4 separate regions of the Homo sapiens genome follow, and regions 1, 2 and 3 are each reported to be linked to region 4. The links are microRNA targets in miRTarBase. Many come from high-throughput screens and were not tested one by one. Region 4 holds a microRNA gene; each other region holds the end of a gene's coding sequence. Distances are between the middles of the regions.
Evidence for each region. Region 4 holds the annotated microRNA hsa-miR-339-5p (UCCCUGUCCUCCAGGAGCUCACG, at 3,610-3,632, opposite strand). A microRNA usually pairs through its seed, bases 2 to 8, with sites in the 3' UTR of a target mRNA and lowers its output. Matches are read on the target gene's strand: a 7mer-m8 pairs with bases 2 to 8, a 7mer-A1 pairs with bases 2 to 7 and ends in A, and an 8mer does both.

Region 1 (5,630 bases), not on the chromosome of region 4:
TTATTGCTGCCCTGTGGGTCTTGCTCAATACTGTTCATACCTGGAGAGAGAAGGTATTGAAACATCTCCTTTATGTGTGACTTTCCCAAATTTTTAAAAATTGTTTATGGTTTAGGCCCCTTAAATACTGTGTAGCAGGATGAAGTCTACCATTACCAGCTGGGTCACCTTGGATGGGTCTGTCAACATCTAAGCCTCAGTTCCCTCACCTGTAAAAATGAGGGTAGTCCCTACCTCATAAGGGATATTGTGAGGATGGAAAGCGAAAGTGTGAGAAAATACCTCCCAAGTGCCTGGTACATAGTGGGTGCTAAATAAACCACTTTTTGTCTGCAACTGTCCTACATAGTCATGCTTCCCACAATAGGAAGAGAGGAGTGTGGGTGAATTGGTGCTGAAATTCACAAAATCCAGAGTTCTGGGACTGGATTCTCAAAGTGTGCTTTCTAGGCTAGCAGCATCAGCATCATCCAGGAACTTACTAGAAATGCAATTTCTCAGGCTGGGCACGGTGGCTCACGCCTGTAATCTCAGCACTTTGGGAGGCCAAGATGGGTGGATCACCTGAGGTCAGGAGTTTGAGACCAGCCTGACCAACATGGAGAAACGCCTCCTCTGCTAAAAATACAAAATTAGCCAGGTGTGGTGTCACATGCCTGTAATCCCAGCTACTCGGGAGGCTGAGGCAGGAGAATCGCTTGAACCTGGGAGGCGGAGGTTGCGGTGAGCCGAGATTGCGCCATTGCATTCCAGCCTGGGTAACGAGCAAAACTCTCAAAAAAAAAAAAAAAAGAAATGCAATTTCTCAGGCCCCCTGCAGTGACCTACATCAGAAACCATGGGAGCAGGGCCCAGCAATTTGTGTTTCAATAAACCTACCAAGTGATCCTGATACACACTGTTCAAGGGCGGGGCTTAGCGGAGCAGACCTCCATCCAGAGGCCATTTTGGTGGGACAGGTTTGAGTTTTGTTGTCCAAGTCTTCAGTATAAGAGGTGGCAGTGCTAGCTGGGCTAGAATTTGGGAAACCTCAATGGGGAGAGAGGTTATGACTCAGCCAGTTAATTTGACTGGACCCTACCTTCCTAACTAGAAGGATTTGCCCTGAGAGTTCTTTGCTCACCCCTGGTTGGGGAGCAGGATGGGCATAGGTGGTTGTGTTTGTCCAAGGGGTGATTATATTACAGTGGTTCCATAAGAGGCCTGCCCATCTGGCTTTCCTGTTTTTGAGCAGGGACCTGCATGCTTTTGGGATGTCTGTAGGGCTCCTGACCTCTCAAAGGCCACCCACCACTACTCAATGGTATTTTTGCCTTCCAGCTGAGCTGGCTCCTTGTTCTAGCTTCTCAAGTAAATGTTCCCTCCCCAGTACCTTAGCCTGCCCTGGACTTGTAGCTTCTCCAAGAGTCACGTGACTCCTGACACTTTGCCCCATTTTCACCCTCCTAATTAATAGGGGTCTGACCCAACAGCCTGAGTTCTGAGTTCCCAGGACTGGAAAGTAGAGTGACCAACCATCCTGGTTTTCCTGGAACTGAGGGATGTTCTGGAGTGAGGGACTTTCAATGCCAAAACTTGGAAAATGCTGGGCAGATGGGAAAGAGTTGATCACCCTACTGGAAATGTTCCAGAGAGGCAGTATTTAGAAGGGAGTACTGAAGGGGCAATGCAGTTGCAAAGAATTATTTTTTTGCATATGCATAATGGCTGACAGATTCTTAGCTCCACACCAGTGGTCACTGTCTGTTTCCATGTTGCCATTTTTCTTCCAGTTGCCCACATTTGCTAGGTTGTCATTGACTCATGCAATCCTTGATCCCTGGGGCAATCGCAGATTCCTCTTCTGTGACCACCTCCCAGCCCCACCTCAAGTCTGGCCCTGAGTTCTCTCTGCTGTTACCTTTTGCAGTGGCCAGATATATACTCCCTTTTTCAGGTCTCTACCAGTCTCTGATCCAACCTGCGCCCACAGCCAGATTGGCCTACCCTAAACAATGGTCTCTTGTCTCTCTTCTCTAAAACCTCCAGGGACCATGCTCTAAAGTACAATGCCTAAGTCCCTACCTGTGGCCCTTTCTCCTCCCCTTTCTCTGTAAATCCTTTGCTTCTTTCCTTTAGGCTCAGTCACCTTTATAGAGACCAAGAGCATGGGCTCCTGAGTCGGACAAGCAAACAGCTCAGTCCCTGTGCCACCACTTACAAACTGTGACCTGGCCAAGTTTCCTCAGGGTTCTGTAATTCAGTCTCATCCTTAAAATGGAAAGAAAAGTCTCTGTCCTGTTGGGTTATTTTAAGGATTAATACCTGCAAAGCACTTGGAACTGCTTAATAAGTGGTACTGTCTGAAAATGCCAGATTCCCTTCTGCCTTCCAGCCTTGTTCACTTTCCAAGGAATATTCTCTCTTGGGCCCTCCACCTGCAACTAAGGCCCTAGCTGACCCCCGTTGAACCCATGGAACTTCCTTGAAAGTAGGGTTGTCACACTTAGGCAGAGGCAGGAGAAAGTCTGAAGAGAGCCAGAGGACTGACAGGAGAGAAGGGAAGCAGGAAAGACAACTGAGCTTGATCTGAAGATTGGCTGGGACCACTGGGGAGGGGAAGGCCTGCAACTACTGAGCGTTCCCCCTCCTCTCCCCTCACACTGCAGGAGGGTGATTATCACCAGTGGAATAAATGAATGTCAGAAATGTCCACTGGCTGAGTTAGGCTGGAATCCCTACCAGGCAAGGCCACTACTCCAAGCTTCGCCCCAGCAGGCCAAGCCTTTCCACCCTCTGGCTGCTGCCACCATCCTAGTGGTAAAATTTCTGGCCCAGGGGCCTGGCAGAGGTCTTCCAGGTAGGGGTGTGGCCTCTCTGGGCACCCGTCTATTTGCCTGTGTCCCAGCGGAGGGTTCTTTTGGCAGGATGGGGAAAGGGTCAGGAACCCATTAACAGGTGGGGAAACAATGTCATCACTCTGGGGCCAACCTAGGGATTAGAATCAAGGTCTCCCAGGCAGACAGTAGGTGGGCCAAGGCCCCACTGTCTTTCACTCAGGCCCGGTGACTTCCCCTTGGTAGACTGATAAGCATCAGCTCTGAAGGCTGGCTGGATGCTGGGTCCAAAACCTGACCTCAGGGTTCTGACTTTGTAAAAATGGTGTAATTATTACCTACCTTAAAGGGTTGCTATAAGGGCTAAAGGAAACATTGCATTGAAAGCCCTGGCACAGTGCCAAGTGCGGACTCCCCATAGCACTTTACAGATTTTACTGTTTCTTGCTTCTGGCGGGCGTCTGGATAGAGGCATGGTGCGGCAGAGTCTCGACTTTATTCTCAAATATTGGGAAAGTAGCCTGGACAACATAGCGGGACCTCCTCTCTAAAAAAAAAAGTTTTTTAAATTAGCCTGGGGTGGTGCTGCACGCCTGTAATGCCAGCTAGTCGGGAGGTTGAGGCAGGAGGATCGCTTGAGCCCAGGAGGTCGCGACTGCAGTGAGCGGTGATCGCTCCACGGCACTCCAGCCTGGGCGACAGAGCGAGGCCCTGTCTCAGACAACAAAACAAACTTACAAAAAAACCGGGAAAGGTGAGCGTCTGGACTGTGGGCCGGAAGAGGCCCAAGTGGACCTCCTTCCTCCACCCTGGAACTCTGGCCAGAGGCAGAGCGCGAGGTGAGGAGTCCAGGGCCCCAGAGCCCAGGATTGGCGGCGGCTTTGTCTTCAATCGTCCACCTGTATCTCCTCGTCTGACAGGTGGGGCCGGGAGTCAGGGCCGGCAGGGCCGAGGCAGAGGCCGGGATCTGGAGCGCCTTCGGGCAGTGCTAAGCTGCACAGGACTTCCGGGGACAACGCGCGTAGCGAGGCGACGTCGGCGCGCATCTCCTCCACATCGCGCTTGAGCTTGGCTCGCCGGTTCTGGAACCAAGTGACCACCTGCGCGTTGGCCAGGCCGAGTCGCGTAGCTAGCCCGTCTCGCTCGGACGGCGCCAGGTACTTCTGGAAGACGAAGCGCCGCTCCAGCTCCAGCACCTGTTGCGCGGTGAACGCAGTGCGTGACTTGCGCCGTTTGCGGCCGAAGGGACCAGGGCCCAGCGCGTCCGGACCTGCCCGCCCTGTAGGGATAGGGAGGGGGTCAGTTTCCAGCCTCCGGGAATCAGGCTGGGCCTGGAAAGAAAAGTTGGGGGTGGGGTCGGGCCGGTGGCGGTGGGGGAAGTAGAGGGAGAGCCAGGAAGGCGGACGGAGACCAGAACTGTGATCCCTTATCGGGAGTCAGGCCCAGGTGGGGATATGGGGCGCAAAGCGGGCTGGCCACAGGGGTGCGAAAGGCAGCAGGCTGAGGGCATATTGTAGGGGCAAGGAAGTGAAGGAAGGGAGGGATGATTCAGAGGTGCAGGGTCAAACCTTCTGGGGTGGAGCCTTTGAGGCTTTTAGGAGCCTCAGGCTGAGCAGGCTATAAGTTGAGGGTGACATCAGAGGCGAGTAAGAGTCAGGGCAGCCGACCCAGCGTGGTGGTGGTAACAGGACTTAGATCATGCCCTTCCATGGATCGGGTCGGGCATTCGGTTTACAGTTCCTTAGTGACACCAGAGCCCGCTCCTCCGGCCCCAAAGGGAGATAATGAGGTACAGAGAGCGAGAAAAGGCAGAGTGCGGAATCCCGCGCCCAGTGCTGCGCCAAGGGCTTTCTGCTCCTTGACTCCCCTCGAGAAGAGAGTGGCTTGGAGCGGAGCTTGGTCACCCGGAAAGACTCGACTCTCCAGCGCTTTCTGTGCCGCCTTTGCAGGCTCACTCGTTTACCGCCTGCGGCTGAAGCCTTTTGTCTCTTTCTCTCCTGCCTTTCTCTATCGCGATTGCCCCGCCTACAAGGAACAGAGCAACAGGTCGCTCAGTTGGCGACGGTCTGCCCTTTTCCCTTGGCACTGGCGGCCTTCCGGAGCCGCCGCGGAACCTAGGGACTAACGGAGGAGAGGTGAGAAGTCGCAGGTGCGAGTCCTGGCACGTGGGCTGAGGACAGGGGAGGATTAGGGTGGGTGGCCTGGGCTGGGACAAAGGTTTGAGACGGGGAACCAGGAGGAGAGAGGTGAGGAAAAGGCTAAGTCAGAGTCCGCGACCTTGCCGGCTCTATACCTTCAGAGGGCTGCAGAGCGCGCGCGTCAAGTCCGCGGAAAGTTTTACTAGTCAGCTCCTCCAGCGCGCACAGCGGCGACGTTGGACCCGGACCCGACTCTGGAAGCTGCGGCGCAGAGGGTGCTCGGGGGACCATGCGCGGGGCTAGGATGTCTGCGATGCTTAAGAGTGTCCGGGGTGTTCGGGGCTCGCGTCCCGAGTTCATGGTCGGCCGGGCTGGGGCGGTCCGGCTGTCCGTTGCGCTAGGCTCCGCAAACGCCTGGGCCCCAGTGCTCGGCTCCCAATCCGGGCCCCCAGCCTCGGACCCGCCCCCGGCTCTGGGCCCGAGTCCCGTGTGCCCCTCCTCCTGCGCCCCCACCTCTCCACCCCGGGCCGCGGTGGATCTGGAGCTCCTAGATGTCCGGGGAGGGTATTTCTACAGGCTGGGGCAGGCGCGGAGAGCAGAAGCCGACCAAACTACCCACCAGAGCAGGGCCACGGGGCTGCTCCGCGCTGCGGGGCGCTGCACCGTGCACAGTCAG
Region 2 (5,462 bases), not on the chromosome of region 4:
TAATGTCAGCTGCAGGCTGCCTGTATTAGAGCTAATTGTATGGGGACATAACTCCCAGACATTAAGATTTTTTTTCACATTGGGCCTCCTTTATGAAATGTGTGTTTTGGAACAGAGCTCTCTGGGCCTGCAGAGACCTCGTTTTAGTTCAGTGTTTCAGCATTGTGCAGTCAGTGGGTGAATCCCTCACGGGTGCTGCGAGTCAGCGCCCATCCCCCGAGCAGCCCCGAGCTCTGGCCTCTGCGTCCATCATCAGGTGGGCTCGGCCTGCGCCCTTAGCTACCCCTTCAGAGACAGGCTCAGCCCACACCCCCAGCTGCCCCTGCAGAGACAGGCTGGCTCTGGGAGTCAGCTTCTGGCTGATGAACAGTGGATGTGGCTCTTGCGGCACAGAGCGGGGTCGCAGAATGCTGTACGTGGCGTGCATTTGACTCAGCCCTCCCCCAGCTCACAGTTTCCCTCTTGTTTCTGCTCAGTTTTTATGGCACAGGCCTCATCGCGGGCCACGGCTTCACCAGCCCTGAACGCACCCCCGGGGTCTTCATCCTCTTCGATGAGGACCGCTTCGGGTTCGTCTGGCTGGAGCTGAAATCCTTCAGCCTGTACAGCCGGGTCCAGGCCACCTTCCGGAACGCAGATGCGCCGTCCCCACAGGCCTTCGATGAGATGCTCAAGAACATTCAGTCCCTCACCTCCTGACCGGCCACATCCTTGCCGCCACATCCCGGGTGGCTCTGGGGCTCTGAACTCTGACCTGTGAATAGAAGCAGCATGCACTTTGGAAATCCGGCCTTTTGACCAGAACGCACACCTCGTCGGGGGGCCCAGTCCAGCCACCCCCCAGCACTTTATGTAGAGAGTGTGACATAGACCTGCATATTTGTCAGTGCCATGATGGAAGAAGCTGAGCATGTCTTACCAAAAACAGAGAGAACGAGCCTGAATACAGCAGATGTAGGGGACAGCCGTGGGACCGCGTGAGAATTGAAGCGGTGGGGTTCCCGCACCCTGGGCTGGCTGGTGGTTTTCTCGGGAAGCAGGACCCTCCTGACTGGTGCTCTTCCTGTGAGCGGATAGAGTGATAGACTGGGTCGTGTGTGAGACGCATGTGCTCCACCCCACTCCTTTTGGGGGAAGCCAGGCAACAGTGGCCTCTGGGAGGGGGTCAGGAAGAGGCGAACAGCTCAGGCAGCGCAGGTGTGATGGGCACAGTACGCAGAGCAAGCTCGGGAAGTTGGTAGGATCTCAGGCTTGGGGCCGGGACTCTGGAGTGAATCCCCATTTCTCTACCGGCTTGCTTGGAGTTTGGACAGAAGCATTTCACCTCTGATCTCAGCTTCCCCACCTGTGGAGTGGGTTTAGTGACCTGAGTCACTAGGGAATGTCACCTGAATGCACAGCCCAGCCCATGCACCTGCCCCAGCCCCTCCAGCTTTGGAGCCAAGGCCATCGTTCCAGCCACTTGACTGTCCTCGACGGCCTGTTCCAGACAGGGCGTTTGTTTTGTCCATGCCTTCCTCCCTGCACGCACACGGCGTCAAAACCAAGCTGCCGGCCACTGTCTCCAGAACGCAAGGCTCCAGGCCCGTGTGTCTGAAGCAGTGAGTGGTCCACACAGGTGCCAGGAGTGCCCATATGAGATGACGAGGAAACCCCTTTGCAGGTGAGGGGACAGCTTTCTAGAAAAGCCACACCTGCATCTGGGGACACACTTTGGAAAGTGGGACCCTCCAGCCTGGAGACCCCATGGACTGATGCCTCCACTGCTGTGTGCCCCATGTTGTGTTAACACCTGCGTGTGGGGACCCCATCTGAGGTCTTGGCTGAGGTTGGCATCTCCTGAAGAACAGAGAGCACGGTGTCCAGAGCTGGCCCTTCCCCCAGCCCACAGCCAGCTCCGTGCCCGAGTGGGCGTCCCCAGCGAGCCTTCCCTCTCTGCCGCTTGTCCTTGTGTCTGGGCTGCTCCAAGTCCTTGTGCTGGGCACCCTGGACACGTCCTGCTGGTGAGGGACCTCGGGAAGGTGACAGTCTGTGTGCCTTGGTGTGGAGACCAACCTGAGGATGTCCTGGGAAATGTTTTCCTGATGAATTTCTCCTTGACTGGCCTTTAAAGAACATAAGAATTCCCATTGCCCAGCCTCAGTGCATTTGGCAAATGCTTACTTTGCTTCCCAGAGTCAGAGAATTGGCAAAGGTTCCTAAATGGTAATCTGGCCGGCCTGGGAGAAAGACTCACGAGAAAAGCCAGTGGAGAAAGCGCCCTTCCAGGGCGGCAGCAGCGGGAGCCACGCAGACCCCGAGGCGCACCTGCTGGCTCTTGTGTGTGGCCCCAGTTTCTAGCGGCTTTTGCAGCATTAGCCTACAAGCTTTGTCACTCCCTGCCCTCTGTGGTGGTCACTGTTTTTCTCTCTTGCCAAATGAGGCAGTCTCTGAGTGACGGTGACTGTGGCCTTGAAGCCTGGAGGACTGTTGGGCATGTAGACTGGCACCTTGAAGATTCACCATTGTTTAAATAAAATCAAGCAAATGCTTTTTTACCAAGAGCCCGAGCCTCGCTCTAAGGGACGCAGTCCTAGAGGCGTGCCCTTTGGGGCTTGAAGAGCACACTGTGGGACGCACGTGCTTCTGATTAAAGGAATCTCAGATCTCAATTACGCTTCCAGTGTTTGGGTATAGAAATAGCTTCCACCCATCATGTCTCAGCCATGGGCTGTTGGTCAGTTCATGTGGCTCCTGGTTCTGGTGTGTATGTTGGGGGCGGGGGTCTCTCCATGGTGGTGACCTGCAGTGATGCCAGGCAGGGCCAGAGCCACACAGCCAGGAAAGGGAGGCCTTTTTGGCCGCACAGCCAGTCCCTTCAGTCGTGACTACAGGTCTTGTTTTTTCCGCTCCGATGTGTCCTTAGCCAGTTCTTGGCTCCGGTTCTGTAGGGACAGGCACTGAATCTGCGCGCCTCAAAACAGCAGCTTCCCTTCCGGGGGAGGGCATCCACCCTCTCAGGGGATCCTGCAGGTGGCCCATTTCCTGCAGGTGAGAACTCGGAAGGGCTGATGTCGTCATCAGAGGCCTAAGGGCAGCTGAGAGTTGGATAAAACCGTTTCCAAGGAGGAGGCTGAGTAACCCAGTTCAGGACAGCCAAGCGCATTAGGCTTGATTGGGGAAGGTGGCAGGTGGAGTTGGGAGGTTGGGACTCTCCATCTTTTGCACCACGGATGCCTTTCTGTCGCTGTCTCACTCTGGGGCAGGATCAAGTCTGCTCTCTGGAGTGGGGCTGCCTGCAGTGCAGCTCTGCACACCTGAACGTGTTCTTTGTCACTTGTTTGGAAATGATGTGATTGAAGATTTCAGAGAGGTCATTGGAGGCTTTTCTGTGCCGGCACTGAATGTTCATTTGCATGAGGAAGTTGCAAACGACTTCTGCAGGCTGAGATTCAAGGCAGGTGGTATTGGGGTCCCTCAGCCCACCTGGGCCGTGACCTCAAGTGTCCACTGCTGAGTGTGAGTGGCTTTGCAGGCCTGGTGGTGGGAGAGCCTCAGGCTCCCTCCTTCTTCGTTCCTGACCATGCCCTGGGCCCCTTCAGTCTGCCTGCGGCTCTGTGGCATCCCTGCCCTGACACTGGGCACCTGTGCCCCTAGCAAGCCCACCTGGCACACGAGGAGGGAGGGGTGGGTGGCCATGTCCTTCCTCTAGCCACATGCCCTGCTGGCCGCTCCATTCTGAGCTTTGTGCAGAACCGGGTCTGAGCTGGAGATTTTTCTCTGAGAACCTGCAGTTGTGCTGCAGCCGCACGCAAGGGCCCTTCAGCCGCTGGCTCTGGCTTCCCTGACTCCTCAGGGCGTGTTCACCCCCAGGCTTTCTCACCTGCACACGGTTAGGCCATTTTCAGTGCTCGTGGGCAGTCACGGACAGCAGCAGAAACTCCTCAGCCCCTTTGTTACTTCAGAACGCCTGCCCACATGCATCTTCTGAGCTCGTGTTGTCCTCATGGCCGTGGGGTCTTGGGTGCGAACAGGAGATGCTGAGCTGTGGTCCACCGTCCAAGGTGCTGCAGAAAGCAGCTAGGCTCTTTTAGGATGTTTCTATTCTGGTTGCTGCCTTCGTGGTGTAACTTTTAAGAACACTTACGGGAATGTGCTCATAGAACCATCACCTGTCCTGAGAATAAAACTCCTGGAATCATGATCAAGTCCAGTGTTAACGTGGCCCAACCTGTCTGTACTTCTGGGGAGAGACCAGGAACATCACTGGACTCCTCATCCCCGTAATTATTTAGAGAAGATGCAAGCAGCAGATAGTCTCCATGCGGCTGGTACTTTTTTTGTTGTTTTTTGAGACAGGGTCTTGCTCTGTCACCTGGGCTGGAGTGCAGAGCGGCGATCATGGCTCCCTGAGGCCTCAACCTACTAGGCTCAAGCTGTCTGCCCGCCTTAGCCTCCCAAGTAGCTGGGACCACAGGCACCCACCACCACCATGCTTGGCTAACTTGTTTTTGTAGAGATGGAGTTTTGCCATGTTGCTCAGGTTGGTCTCGAACTCCCGATCTCAGGTGATCCACCCGCCTCGGCCTCCCAAAGTGCTGGGATTACAGGCGTGAGCCCCTGCGCCCCAGCCTTGGGGCCTGTCTTTGAATGGGAATGAGACTGTGCAAACCGTGGACTACCCTGTGTCACCCACAGCTCAGTGGCCTGCCTGCCGGCCCTCAGGGGCTGCTGACCGGGAGACCAGCCAGAGCACGAGGGGGTCAGGGCTGTGTGGGTTTTGGCCTGATTCTGCATTTGGTTGTTTCTGGGGGCCATGTAGCCTGCCTGCATTAGGAAAGCGCTGTGCCATCTGATCATGAGCACCTCTGCACCCCCTGGTAAGGTGACCTTGCAGCAGGAGCTGTGCCCTGCCTGGGTAGGCACCCACTAGGTAGGACCGGAGCAATCCTGGCAGCCGCCACCTGCACCCGTGCACTTGTTTCTCCTCACAGTTTCAAGTAAATCCGTTTTTGAAGGCTTGTTGTGTGTTTTGTGATTTCTTTGGGAATATGAGTTGGACGGAGGCGAGAGCCTTAAGCCATGCGAGCTGTCGGCCTGGGAACCCAGACTTCCCAGCTTCTTGAGGAAGTGTCAGATTTCCCGCGTTGACAGAAGGGAGCATTGAAGGGATGCCTTGGAGCCCAGACAGTGGTTGTCCCTGTGTCCTTCCCTTTGACCTGGCATCAGAGGTGTCTCGAGTCCCTACCCAGGGACCCAGAGGAGTTCGGGCCCCAGTAGATTTTCTTAGATTTAAGCCAAAGTGAGTTGCATTATCTGCAACGAGGACAGATATGGGAGGGAATGTGCTGAGAGCCAGGCAGATGAACTGAGGATCTCATTGATCTTTCTTTTGTGTTTACTAAACTCATATGTTCTTGTAAACAGTTCTTTAGCATAGACAGTGAAAGTACCCCCTGTTCTCATCCCAGCCTCCCCGTGAG
Region 3 (5,739 bases), 6.2 Mb from region 4:
TAAGGGAGTTGAAATAGAGCAAAATTCAACTCTAAAACTTTAATGTTGGTTGCTCTAAAGAGAATTTGTAAAATTCCTTATTCTAGCCTGTATTAAAGTTTTTATTTCAAATCTTATATATAAACACATTTTTAAAAAATCAACAGAGGTTACATTAACATTTAGCATAAAATCTACCACAGGTTGCCTCCCAGATTGCTTCACTATGTTTCTGTCAGGCCTACTATAAAGTAGAAAAATAAAATGAGTTTTGTTTTTTGTTGTTGTTTTTGAGAAAAGGGTGAGTGGAAGAACCCAAATAACTTTACTTCCTTTAATAATTGTAGACATAGAATTAATTTTAAATTATAGATTTTTAAGTAGGGCAAGTATCTCGAGAGCCAGCAGGCATTATTCTTAGACTTTTACTTTCAATTTCATAGGGAACCCTAGTTAGTAGGCTTAAAATTATCAATTAAGTGATAAAAATTCTAATCACTATTAACAGCCAAATTAACCTTGTGAAGGCAGCATTTAAGAGTAACTAGAAAATGGAAGTTAGTAATAAAGCAAACAAAGAAGGGCAATAAACACCAGGCAGAAACTGTCAAAGAATTATAGTCTAATGAACTGAAAATTGAAATGGCAAATAAAATGCTAGATGTAATTTAATCAAGGGATTCTTTCAAGTACAGTGCATCAACCTGGTAGTAACTATAGTTTGACAGTCTCAAAGAAGTGAAAAATTAATATTCAAGAAAATTGTGAAAATAACCAGTTAGCAAATTTACTGCTCAAATCCAATTCTGTATTCAAAAAATATTAAGAGCTGATCAATGATTTATTTTCATACCTCATTACAGTAAGAAAAAGCCCTCTGAAATTTATATTTGAAAGCAAACTGGGACAAAAATCTGCTTTATCTATGAACTTCCCACTAGAAAATACAAGCATACCATTATTAGAGAACATAAGACATCAAAAGCCTTATGTTTTAAAACCATACTGAAATCATTTACCAAATAACAAAGATCTTAATCTAAAAGATAGTGAATACATCATCATCATGAAATCTGGTTTTATGTGCTCTATGAAGTACTTGGAGAATTGCTTTTTTATTTTTCTTTTGCTTTATTAGGTCACACAAAACAGAATGAATTAGCAGAAAAATGTATGTTATAAAACAGCATTTACTACTTCAATTTAATTTTTTTTACTAACAATTGTGGACCTTTTTGATGACACTTATGTATGTTTTTAATAAATTATGTACTTATTAGTACTTAATGAGCCCTTCCTGCCTCAATATAAAATTACTAAACTTGGAGAATTACAGATTTTATTGTAGGCCCTGATGTTAGTCACTTTGGAGAAGCTAAAAATTTGGCCAAAATGAATGATCCAATGATCCTTTAAGTTATCTTTATATTTAATATAGTGTGATCCTGGACTACACTGATTTAAAACATGCTTTTTGAAAAATGTCTTAGTAATTGGGCAGTAATCTTCAGTGTGTTTCAAACACTACTTGCACCAAAATCACGTAGGTTGTTGGGTATTGGTTCTCAAACTAGGATAAGAAAGACACCTGCAGAGTTTGCTTAAACACAACTGCTAGCCCCTGCCCCTGCCCCTGCCCCTAGAGTATCTGATTTAGTAGATCTGATCTGAGATGAGGCCCCGAGAGAGGCTGCATTTCCAACAAGTTCCCAGGTGACGTTAATGCTGTTTGTTGGGACCAGACTTTTGACAGTCACTGCCCAAGGTATCTGGTAAGAATGCATACTCTTGGGCCCCATGCTTAAATTTGAATTTCTGAGATTGGGGTCTTCAGATCTGCATTTAACAACATCCTGGGCAAGTGTGAGAACCACAGTTTAAGAATCACTGTGACAATTTGGCTGGGTTAATTTGACTATTACTGGCCAATGCATCAGACGTCATATATCATATACATAAAAATGGAAATAATGCTACATGAATAGCCCCAAGCCTGATACGGTTCCAATGAACACACAGGGTTTTGAATATAAATCCTACCTCTGTTACTTACTAGCTTTGTGACAGTGACAAAGTTACTTTGTCTCTGAGCCTCAGTTTCCTTATCTATAATAGGGGTATAACACCCAAATTTTGAGGATTAACACTATTATACACAGATTATCTAAGCACAGTACCTAGCATACAGTTGGCATTGGATAAATACTAGCTATTACTTATTTCCTTCAGTATCTGGTCAAAGCAAATTTTTCATTCACTTAAATGCAGTACTTACACTCCAAGGTAACAGAATAATAATACAATCTTCTATTTATTGCTCCCTATCAATGTTCTAAAAACCTTACATTTATTTAATCCTCATAAAAATCCTGTGAGGTAGGTAGTATTATCATCCCTAATTAAAAGATGAGGAAATTGAGACACAGAGAGATTAAAATTGCTCAAGGTTACAAAAACAGTAAGTGTTAGAGCAAGAATTTAAACCCAAGCAAGTCTGACTCTAGAGCCCAGGATTCATCACAATATTCATTTCCTATGAGCAAATCTCAAGGTTTTTGGATATCTATAGTAAACCATTTATACTTCTAGTCAAGTAACACATATGAAAATTCATGTCCACACCATGGTGAAGAGTTGTTCAAAGAATAAAATGAATGCCTTGAAATTTTGGCAGATGATACTACCATGATAATAGGTAAAAACTGGTGCATGTTTTCACTACGTGGACAGAGTAGTCCATGGTTAACCAATGAAATGAACATCCTCTCAAATATACCATTCAAAGAGGTCATGATTTTGACATGTTTTGGCACAATAAATAGAAATTACTTAGCCGGGTGCTGTGACTCACGCTCGTAATCCCAGCACTTTGGGATGCCAAGGTGGGTGGATCACCTGAGGTCAGGAGTTCAAGACCAGCCTGGCCAACACGGCAAAACCCTGTCTCTACTAAAAATATGAAAACTGGCGGGGCGTGGCAGCGCGTGCCTGTAATCCCCGCTACTCGGGAGGCTGAGGCAGGAGAATCGCACCACTGCAGTCCAGCCTGGGAGACAGAGTGAGACAGTCTCCGAAAAAAGAAATTACTTAGCTAAATAGCAGAGTCAGTGGCATGACTGCCATGTAAAATTGGCATAATGATAAACATGAGGGAAATGTAAATACTTTGTACCATAAAAATAATCTCATAGAAAGTCTGTAAAATATTCTGCTATGACACTCAGTACTGCTAAAGATAATAAAAATAAAAAATTTCTTTCCTTTCAGAAACTCTTTAAACAGAGTCACTAAAAATAGAATGAAACATTTGTGAATGTTTTTGATGACAGTCTTGACTAGGTATTCTGCATTGTTAGAATTATCCATTAGCAAAACAATTATCCCAAAATAGCACCAACCTTCAGACTGTTATTTATAAATTAAGTATCTACTCTTTCAAAATATAACATTTTTGTTTAAGCACTCTACATTTTCTATTGTTTTTAATTCTCATCAAAATCTTGCTTTCTAAATAATCTTGCCACTGTAACTAATAGCCACCTCAGATCCTATAAACTAATTTTAAAACTCTGCTTTAAACAAGTTATGAAAGGCACAAACAAGTTCTCATCCCAACAGGATGAGAATGAAATAAACCATAACTATGTAGTTGGAAAGAGTTTAAAATATCAATTTAAAATGTCACTTAGTAATTCCTGAGAGTGGCACTGTTATAAGAAAAGCATCCTGAAACAGCATTAAATTTATTATTAGTTACCCATAATGAACAATGGGCAAATTTGGGAACAAATATGTAAAATACATGTTTACAGAATGCTATGAACGGTTTGAGTAAATTAATGTTAATAGTGGAGAATGGTATTCAAGAGTGGCTAAACACATTTAGAAAAGAGACAACAGAGATTGCGTAAAAGATGACTAATTAGAATCAAGTATATAATATAGTCAAGGCCCATGATAATTTTAAAGTGTGGTTTTATTAATGCACTTCAGGGTAAGTGCCAGTCTTATTTTAGCTTCTTCTGGAAGAAATACTACCAATTATAAATAATCACAGCAACATTTTCATTAGACAAAAACTGTGTGTGTGGGTGTGGTAGGGGGGTATCATTTATAGCATACTGCAAATATAAACTCAATTCTTGAGCTATATTAACAACACTGAGCAACAATATTTCTTTCTAAAATTTTCTTTTCTTTAAGGCAGATCTGTTTATTACTAACATGGTGCAGTGTAGTTTTAGTAAATTTACTATTTTAGTTTCTCAGTGACAATAACACAGATGGTCAGAAAACAGGCAACAAAATCTCTTTTCTAGTTCCTCTACCTGGCCACCATTTAAAAAACACAAGTTCCTCATATATATAGACATATTTATATATTACTGTATCAAAACACATTTTAACACACTTCACAGCTCATTTAAAGCTTCAGTTTATAGTCATTCATGTGAAAGGTTTCTATAAGGAATGTTCACTTAGAATTCCTCACTGGGATTCCAGTGTTCTATGTCAGAAATGCAGAAGTCCTTTTTCAGTGCAGTGCTAGACATATTACCTTTGTTCATTCATGATTTTCTTTCAAGGATTTCCTAACTTCACTTTTGTATCTTCATTTTTGTTTGCTTGACTAATTTCCTTTAGTATACGTTCAGGTAAGGTAGGTTGATATCTGTATAAATAACCATATGGACGAAGATGATAAACGAGGTATTCTAACTCATACATGGTTGTAGAATCAACATAGTGAAAAGAAACTGCAAGATCAGAGCAGCAACCAGGACCCTAAAAAAGTAGTGGAAACAGGTATTGTTAATAAACAGCACATTGCTAGCTACAATATTTACATACTTATAAAGGACCAGCTAATTTTAAAAGAATACAAACATTAAAGATGGCAAGGTAAAGCAGAGGAACCTAATGTACTAGACCTGTGGAAGAAATCAATAGTTTACTTAGACATCCTAATGATTTAAAACCAATTGAAATTGGTGAAACCAAGTGAAACTGTGGAAAGTATTTTTAAATGAAACAATATTCTCTCACACTCTTTAGCGGATAAAATTACTGAGATTTCTTCAAATCAAAGGAGCAGCTATACAAGGAGAAATCTCCTTCTCCAACATCTGCTTTCTCTTCCTCATTTTCTCACTGTAATTTTTTGTGTGGCTCATACTCGGAAACATACCTCTAGGGCATTCAATGACTACAAAGCCTTGCCCATTAGGTGTCTACAACCCAATACACTTCATCTATATATGTATCAACCCAAACAGTACAGTATTTGAGACAAAGCTCTCAACCTAGACTTGGGTTTGAACCCAAATTTTGTGGGCTAGTATACGACCTTGAGTAAGTTATTTAATCTCTATAAGCTTTAATTTCCACATTTGTAAAAGGTGGTTATTTAAAGGAGACAATGTGTGTAAATTACCCTTTGCTTAAAATAAATGCCCAATAAATGTTAGCTATTATTGACTGAAAAATCATATCAGGTGGCCCTAAGGTAGGTCAGATTTAAACCTTTGTCCAGTTATGTAATTCTCATAAATTCCTAATAGGGTTGGTATGAGAACAAAGTTTAAAATAAAACAACAACAATACAACGAACAAGAAAGCAAGAAAATTAAGAAGACAGAAAAAGAGATGAATTAAGCAGTCAACCTAGAGTCAGAATTGGTATCTGGAGAATGTTGGTGTCATCCAGGTGACTCCAACAAAACTTCAGGCTCCATCTGACATCTTTGTAAAGAATGAGGG
Region 4 (5,739 bases):
GCCAGGTTGTTGATCACCCACGGTCAATGCTGGAAGGGGCAGCTGCTGCTCTGGGCCAGAAGGAGAGGCTTCCTGGCACCGTGAGGAGGCTGGCCTGGCTGCTCACAGCTCCCGGCAGAAATGCGGAGCGGGGTCCTCACTGCAGCACCCGGGCTTTTCAAAACAGTGAAGCCCTGAGTCCAAGAAGGCAAACCACAGAGCGGAGGTGGCCGTGGGGCTGCCCTGTGGGCAGAGGGGAGGCTGCGCAGGCCTAGTGGCTGCAGGAAGCTCCAGTGGCCGCCAAGAACCTCCAGGCCCATCACCACGAGGAGGGCCCCCACTGCAGCCAGGGCTTCCAGATGGGCAGAGGCGGTGGGAAGCAAGCAGGAAGCGGAGACTGGTTGGCTGTGGCCCTGACCCCTCTTCTCCTGATGGAGTGTGGGGGGCTGGGGCTGCCTGGGGTCACCCACTCAGGTCTCTCACTCCTGCCCTCCCAGGAAGTGGACAGTTCCCACAGCCTGGACCCAGAGGCCCGCAGGCACTGACCGCGGCCCGGAGGCCAAGCTACAGTGCGTTTCCCGAGGGAGGCCACGGGGCACCTGGACGAGGGCAGCTTAGGACGCTCGGCTCTCGTCTCAGGAATCCCAGGGCAGAAGTCCAGCGAGGCGGCAGGTGGCCGGCCCGTCCCCAGCCTCTCTTCCCACTGAGGAGAGATCCAAGGGCCGGCGGAGTGGTGGTGTCTGCTGCTCTGCGGGAACACGGGCACCAGGCCCAGCAGTGCATGGATGCGGCAGGCCCCGCGTGCGATGCCCTGGTCCCCACGACTGTTTCTTCCCACGCCGCGGAGTGCATTCCCTCATGCTCCCGTCCTGTGAACACGCGCTGCAGCCTCTGCCCTCCTGGGGCTCCCTGAGAGAGGGGGCACCCCTTGCTCCCATCACAGTCCTCCTGCAGCCTGGGGCCCCGCCCAGCACGCCCACCAAAGGGGAGGCCCGCTCTCCTGTCAGAGCCAGGACAGCCTCTCCAAGAACTCTTCCTGGGCCCCAGAGAGGAGCCCCCTAGGTTCGCTTCTCGCCAGCCGCTGCCCCATCTTGCGTCTCCACCCAAGGGCCCCTCGGCGCCCCCACCTGGAGCCCCCACTATCGAGATATGTCTGGCGGATACCACACACAAGGGGGCTGTAGCGGGTTGGGGAACAGGCCAACCCCTCCCAGACTGCAGGGACAGCTAGTCTCACACAGCTAAGACCAAGATGATGTAAGGAAATGAATGACAGTAAACCCAGCCCTTACCGAACCCACCTCCCGAGCAGGGAGGACCTGCAGGAAACAGAGGCTCCCATTCCTGTTCACCTCTGATCTCAGGGGCAGACACCAGCCCATCACTGCCGTCTGCTGACCACCCCTGCAGACGGCCTGGGCCTTGGATGTCCTGCTCCTCTGGGCTCCCCAGGCTGTGTGAAACGGAGGAGTGCAGGGGTCAGGACCCCTCGACTTTCTTGGGGGCAATCAGGCCGTTTGTAACGTCCTGATACAGCAGAGCTGGGGACTGGGGTTACGAAAGACACCACCAGGTGGAGCCTTCAGATGGGACCTCCCAGCAGGGCCTCCAGGCTGGGGACCTTCAGGCAGGTACCTCCAGGCTGGGGACCTTCGGGCAGGTACCTCCAGGTTGGGGACCTCCCAGCAGGGCCTCCAGGCTGGGGACCTTCAGGCAGGCACCTCCAGGCTGGGGACCTCGCAGCAGGGAACTCCAGGTTGGGAACCTCCAGGCTGGAGACATTCCAGTAGGGACCTTCTGGTTGGGGATCACCAGGTTAAGAACCTCCAGGTTGGGGACCTCCAGACTGGGGACCTCCCAGCACGGACCCCCAGGTTGGGAACCTCCAGGCTGAGGATCTCCCAGCAGGGACCTCTAGTGTGGACCTCCAGGCTGGCACCCATGGGGCAGGTTTCTTTCTTCTTCCCCAGAAGCCTTTTCATCGTGGCAGTAGGACCTGACCTTGACAGAGATGATATTGCGGATTTCAGTGACTGAACCAGAGTCGGAAGCTGAAGGGCTCTGCCCAGCCTTCCTGTCTTCATCCATTAAGTCTGATCGGCAGTGGTGGCCACCTGGGCTGCTGCTTTGACAAGATGCCAGTAGTTGGAGCTGGGACCCCAGGGAGCACTGTCCATCCACCGCACAGGAGTAGGGCTTCAGCAGCTGTCAGTCATCAATCATTTCCCCATGCTGTTGGATGGGAGAGGGACAATCTGCCAGCCCCAGTGTGACTGGCTTTGCTGCCACCGCAGTGCCCTCTGGGAACCCCGGCAGGTCGGCTGGAGGCAGGACACCACCCCCCTAACCCCTCCCTACTTGTCACCAGACAGAAACCACAGCTCACCAACAACCATACACAAACAGCGCACTAAAAGAAAGCATGCGGCAAAAATACCCGCCCAGCGAGAACTGTGCCTGGCACAGGGAAACACACTGGGATGCGCGCCCTTCCGCGGGGCGAGGCTGGGTTTTGGGGTATAAACTGAGTCCTGGGGAGCAGGAGCCTGAGGGGCACCCAGGGCAGCTCCCTCGGCCTGGGTCACAAGGTTCGATCCTCCGCGGGGGTGGCAGGAAAGCCCAAGTCCCTCGGCACACCCAGGTGACAGCGATGACGGCCCACAGGCGTGGCGCCTGGGCCACATCGGACAGGCCATGTCCTGGAGCACTCGAGGCCCCCTGGACAGGGCAACCAACCCTGAGTCCACCGGAGTCTGCTCGCAGACCACCAGGAGCCCCGCTGCACTGTTCGTGAGCCACGGTGGTGACGGCAGCTCAGGAGGGAAGGACCAGAAGCCTGGCCCCGTCCCACGAGGACAGACGCAGGCCTGCGGGGAGGCATGTCCCCACCCACGGGCGCCTCCTGGACCACGAGCTCCTCTTTCTCCTGCATCGCCTCAGACCCCACCCAGGGGTTCCAAGGTCAGGAGCCTGGTCCCACGTCCCACAGCCCTCTCATGGGGCACCCGTACGGATTCTGTTCCAATTTAAAGAAAACCTTAATCAGATTTGTCACCTCAATTATTAGAATCCCACGGCGTTAACTCACAGTAGTAAACTGCTTTTTCTGAGAAACAAGAGTTTTTTAAATTAAGCCTTTTATTTTAACGCAATCGCAGGTGACGGCCGTCGTGAGGGAACACGGGACGCCCACGTGCCCTCCACCACCTCCTCCCACGGCAACCCTCGCAGAGTAGCCAGGACCACATTCGGATCCGGACTCTGAAATGACAGTCCCACAACCAACAGCATCGATGTGGTCTTCTTAATGATCAGAAACACACAGGGGATTAATTTACTCTTATTCTGCAAAATAAACAAGCTCTCAAATTCTTTAAAGGTGAATCCCCCCCAACCGTCCTCCCTCCCCAGTTACTTCCTCCCTAGGACACCAGTGGAACATCCCATGCTCTCCCCCTTCCATGTTGATACCGAATAAAACACACTGCATCAGAAGACCCACGCATACGAGTCCAGGGGCTGCTACAAAGCGCGGCGACGTCTCCGCGGCGAGCTGGCCACTCCATGGTCCCGGCGCAGACACTGGGGCAGGCGCCGGCTCTGTCGTCGAGGCGCTCACAGGCAGGCACACGTGAGCTCCTGGAGGACAGGGAGAGCGGCCGCCCCGCCCCTGCGGAGCACAGGACGCTTCCTGCCACCCCTGCAGAGCATGGGACGCTTCCTGCCATGGTGCCGTGGCAATGGGTGGCACCTGCCTGTGGCCCCTTCTCAGAAGGACGTTTTAAACGCGTGAGGTCTGATGCACAGCCACAGGGAGACACAGACGAGCAGATGTGGGCATCCGAGTATTTACAAGGTCTGGTGGCTCCTGCAGCCGCGACACGGGCTGAGCGCAAGTGATGTGTGAGGTGTCCCCAACAGATGGCACGGGGAGCGCCCACACCCGCCACCGCGGGGTCTGCGGAAGCTCGTGTCAGCTGGAGGTTAGGGAAGACGCACAGGGGCTCATTCTCCACCCAGGTTCAAACTCCCTGAACTCACGAGACCCAGGCTGAAGACATGGACAGACTCCCAGCCCCAGCGCCCCTCTGACAGCACACCCGAGGCCTCCTGGGAACCTGGGACCCCTTGCAGGGTCCCCCGCAGGCTCCTTCCTAGGAAGGAGGTTCCTGCCCTACTCCACATTTCTCTCCATCCAACTTCCAACTCCTTCCCACTGGGCCCTGGAGAACATGACGAAGACTGTGGGGGCCTCCTCCCAGGAAACACACACACACACACACACACACACACACACACACACACACACACACACACACCAGCAACGCGCCCAGACCCCAATCCCTGGCAGCCCAACTCCTCGTTCTACAGAGAAGGGGTGAGGATCTCCAGGGGTGACTGCTCACATCTCGGCACATGTAGAAGGCAGGGCTGGAGCAGCGGCCCCTGCAGCCCAGGCCAGGGGACTGGAGGCCCTTCCACAGCAGCCCTTTCCTTTTGATACACGGTCTTGCTCTGTGGCCCAGGCTGGACTGCAGCGGCACCATCACAGTTTACTGCAGCCTCGACCTCCTGGGCTCAAGCAATCCTCCCACCTCAGCCTCCCAAGCAACCAGGACTATAGGCATGTGCCACCATGCCTGGCCAGTTTTTAAATTTTTTATAGAGATAGGACCAAGGCTGCTCTCACACTCCTGAGCTAAAGTGATCCTCCTTGCCGGCCTCCCAAAGTGCTGGGATTATAGGCATGAGTTTTCAAACTCCTGGGCCACAGCGATCCTTCCGGCCAGCCTCAAAGTGCTGGGATTATAGGTGTGAGCCCACGGTGCACAGCCCCCACTTTCTTCCTAAAAACCCTGCAGCTTGGCTGACAGTGGGACCTGCCTCCCTACTCCCGCCTGCAGGAGCTCAGAAGCCTCAGCTCAAGAGGAGCCCTTGCCAGAGACGTGGGACCAGGAATGGGCCCCACAGAGCCCTGCCCGTGGGCTTCCTAAACAGCCTGAGTTCAGCTGCACACACCAACGATGTAGGCGGGTTGCAATAAACAGCAAGAAACGGACCCATGGGACAGGAGAGACGCAGGAGCCCCAGGGGACAAGAGAGACGCAGAAGCCCCAGGTGCCTTTGGTGGCCAGTGCTGAATTTCGCAAGCAACATTAGAAACTTTTTATTTCTGCTTTTCTCTTAACCCAAGGGTGAAAATGGAAACCTGTGGTGTGGGGCAGTCTGCTGAACGCTAGGATGAGGGCGGGGAACAAGAGCCACCCTCCCCGCTGCCACCTGGCCCACAAGAGCCTTCCCAGGGGCTCTCCAGTTTCAGCCCCTCCTTGCCGAGCCAGACAGCGCTGCTGGCCTGGACGGGAGGGACACCCAGGCTGACTGAGTGGGGGAGCACTTTTTATAAAGATCAGATCAGGTTTCTGAAAACAAAAAGCCCCCAGATCCTGCGAGCGGCTATTTAGACTTGATGCACACTCCACCATTTCACAGGTATCCATTCCCCAGCGTCACACATGCCCATCCCCAGCTGGAGCACACTCTTCAGTGTGGAGGACAGAAGGAGCAGGCAGAAGACGACCCCGGGGCGCTGGGGGAGCAGGTGCGGGCTCCCACATACCTGCTCTATTCTGGTTGGAGGTGTCACAAGGGAAGGCGTGGAGATGCTGCCAATGGGGACATGCGGCAAATGCGCCCCCTTCGCCCCACACCTGTCAGCAGCTAGCAACAACTCAGTCCTGACTGCTGGAGACCCAGCCCCAG

Region 1: miRTarBase lists LBX2 as a target of hsa-miR-339-5p. Seed matches in the 3' UTR shown: 7mer-m8 at 3,526-3,532.
Region 2: the mRNA of FBXO31 is a reported target of hsa-miR-339-5p. Seed matches in the 3' UTR shown: 7mer-m8 at 1,489-1,495 and 7mer-m8 at 4,334-4,340.
Region 3: the mRNA of C1GALT1 is a reported target of hsa-miR-339-5p. Seed matches in the 3' UTR shown: 7mer-m8 at 2,918-2,924.

What each region holds. Positions count from the first base shown.
Region 1 is chr2:74,494,224-74,499,853 of GRCh38, forward strand. It overlaps LBX2 (ladybird homeobox 2), which reads right to left and starts at 5,380. Exons shown (of 2, transcript NM_001282430.2): 1 at 5,110-5,380; 2 at 3,294-4,095. The coding sequence starts at 5,314. The coding sequence ends at 3,704. It overlaps TTC31 (tetratricopeptide repeat domain 31), which reads left to right. Exons shown (of 13, transcript NM_022492.6): 13 at 1-336. RefSeq lists an enhancer at 3,677-3,726.
Region 2 is chr16:87,326,525-87,331,986 of GRCh38, reverse strand. It overlaps FBXO31 (F-box protein 31), which reads left to right. Exons shown (of 9, transcript NM_024735.5): 9 at 477-5,000. The coding sequence ends at 699. Among named protein-coding and RNA genes, the nearest start is that of C16orf95-DT, 12 kb to the right of the region's middle. RefSeq lists an enhancer at 239-740.
Region 3 is chr7:7,242,549-7,248,287 of GRCh38, reverse strand. It overlaps C1GALT1 (core 1 synthase, glycoprotein-N-acetylgalactosamine 3-beta-galactosyltransferase 1), which reads right to left. Exons shown (of 4, transcript NM_020156.5): 4 at 1-4,764. The coding sequence ends at 4,561. Among named protein-coding and RNA genes, the nearest start is that of LINC03016, 9.7 kb to the left of the region's middle.
Region 4 is chr7:1,019,381-1,025,119 of GRCh38, forward strand. It overlaps MIR339 (microRNA 339), which reads right to left and starts at 3,646; the gene lies at 3,553-3,646. All of the region lies in intron 2 of CHLSN (cholesin), which reads right to left. RefSeq lists an enhancer at 3,757-4,314.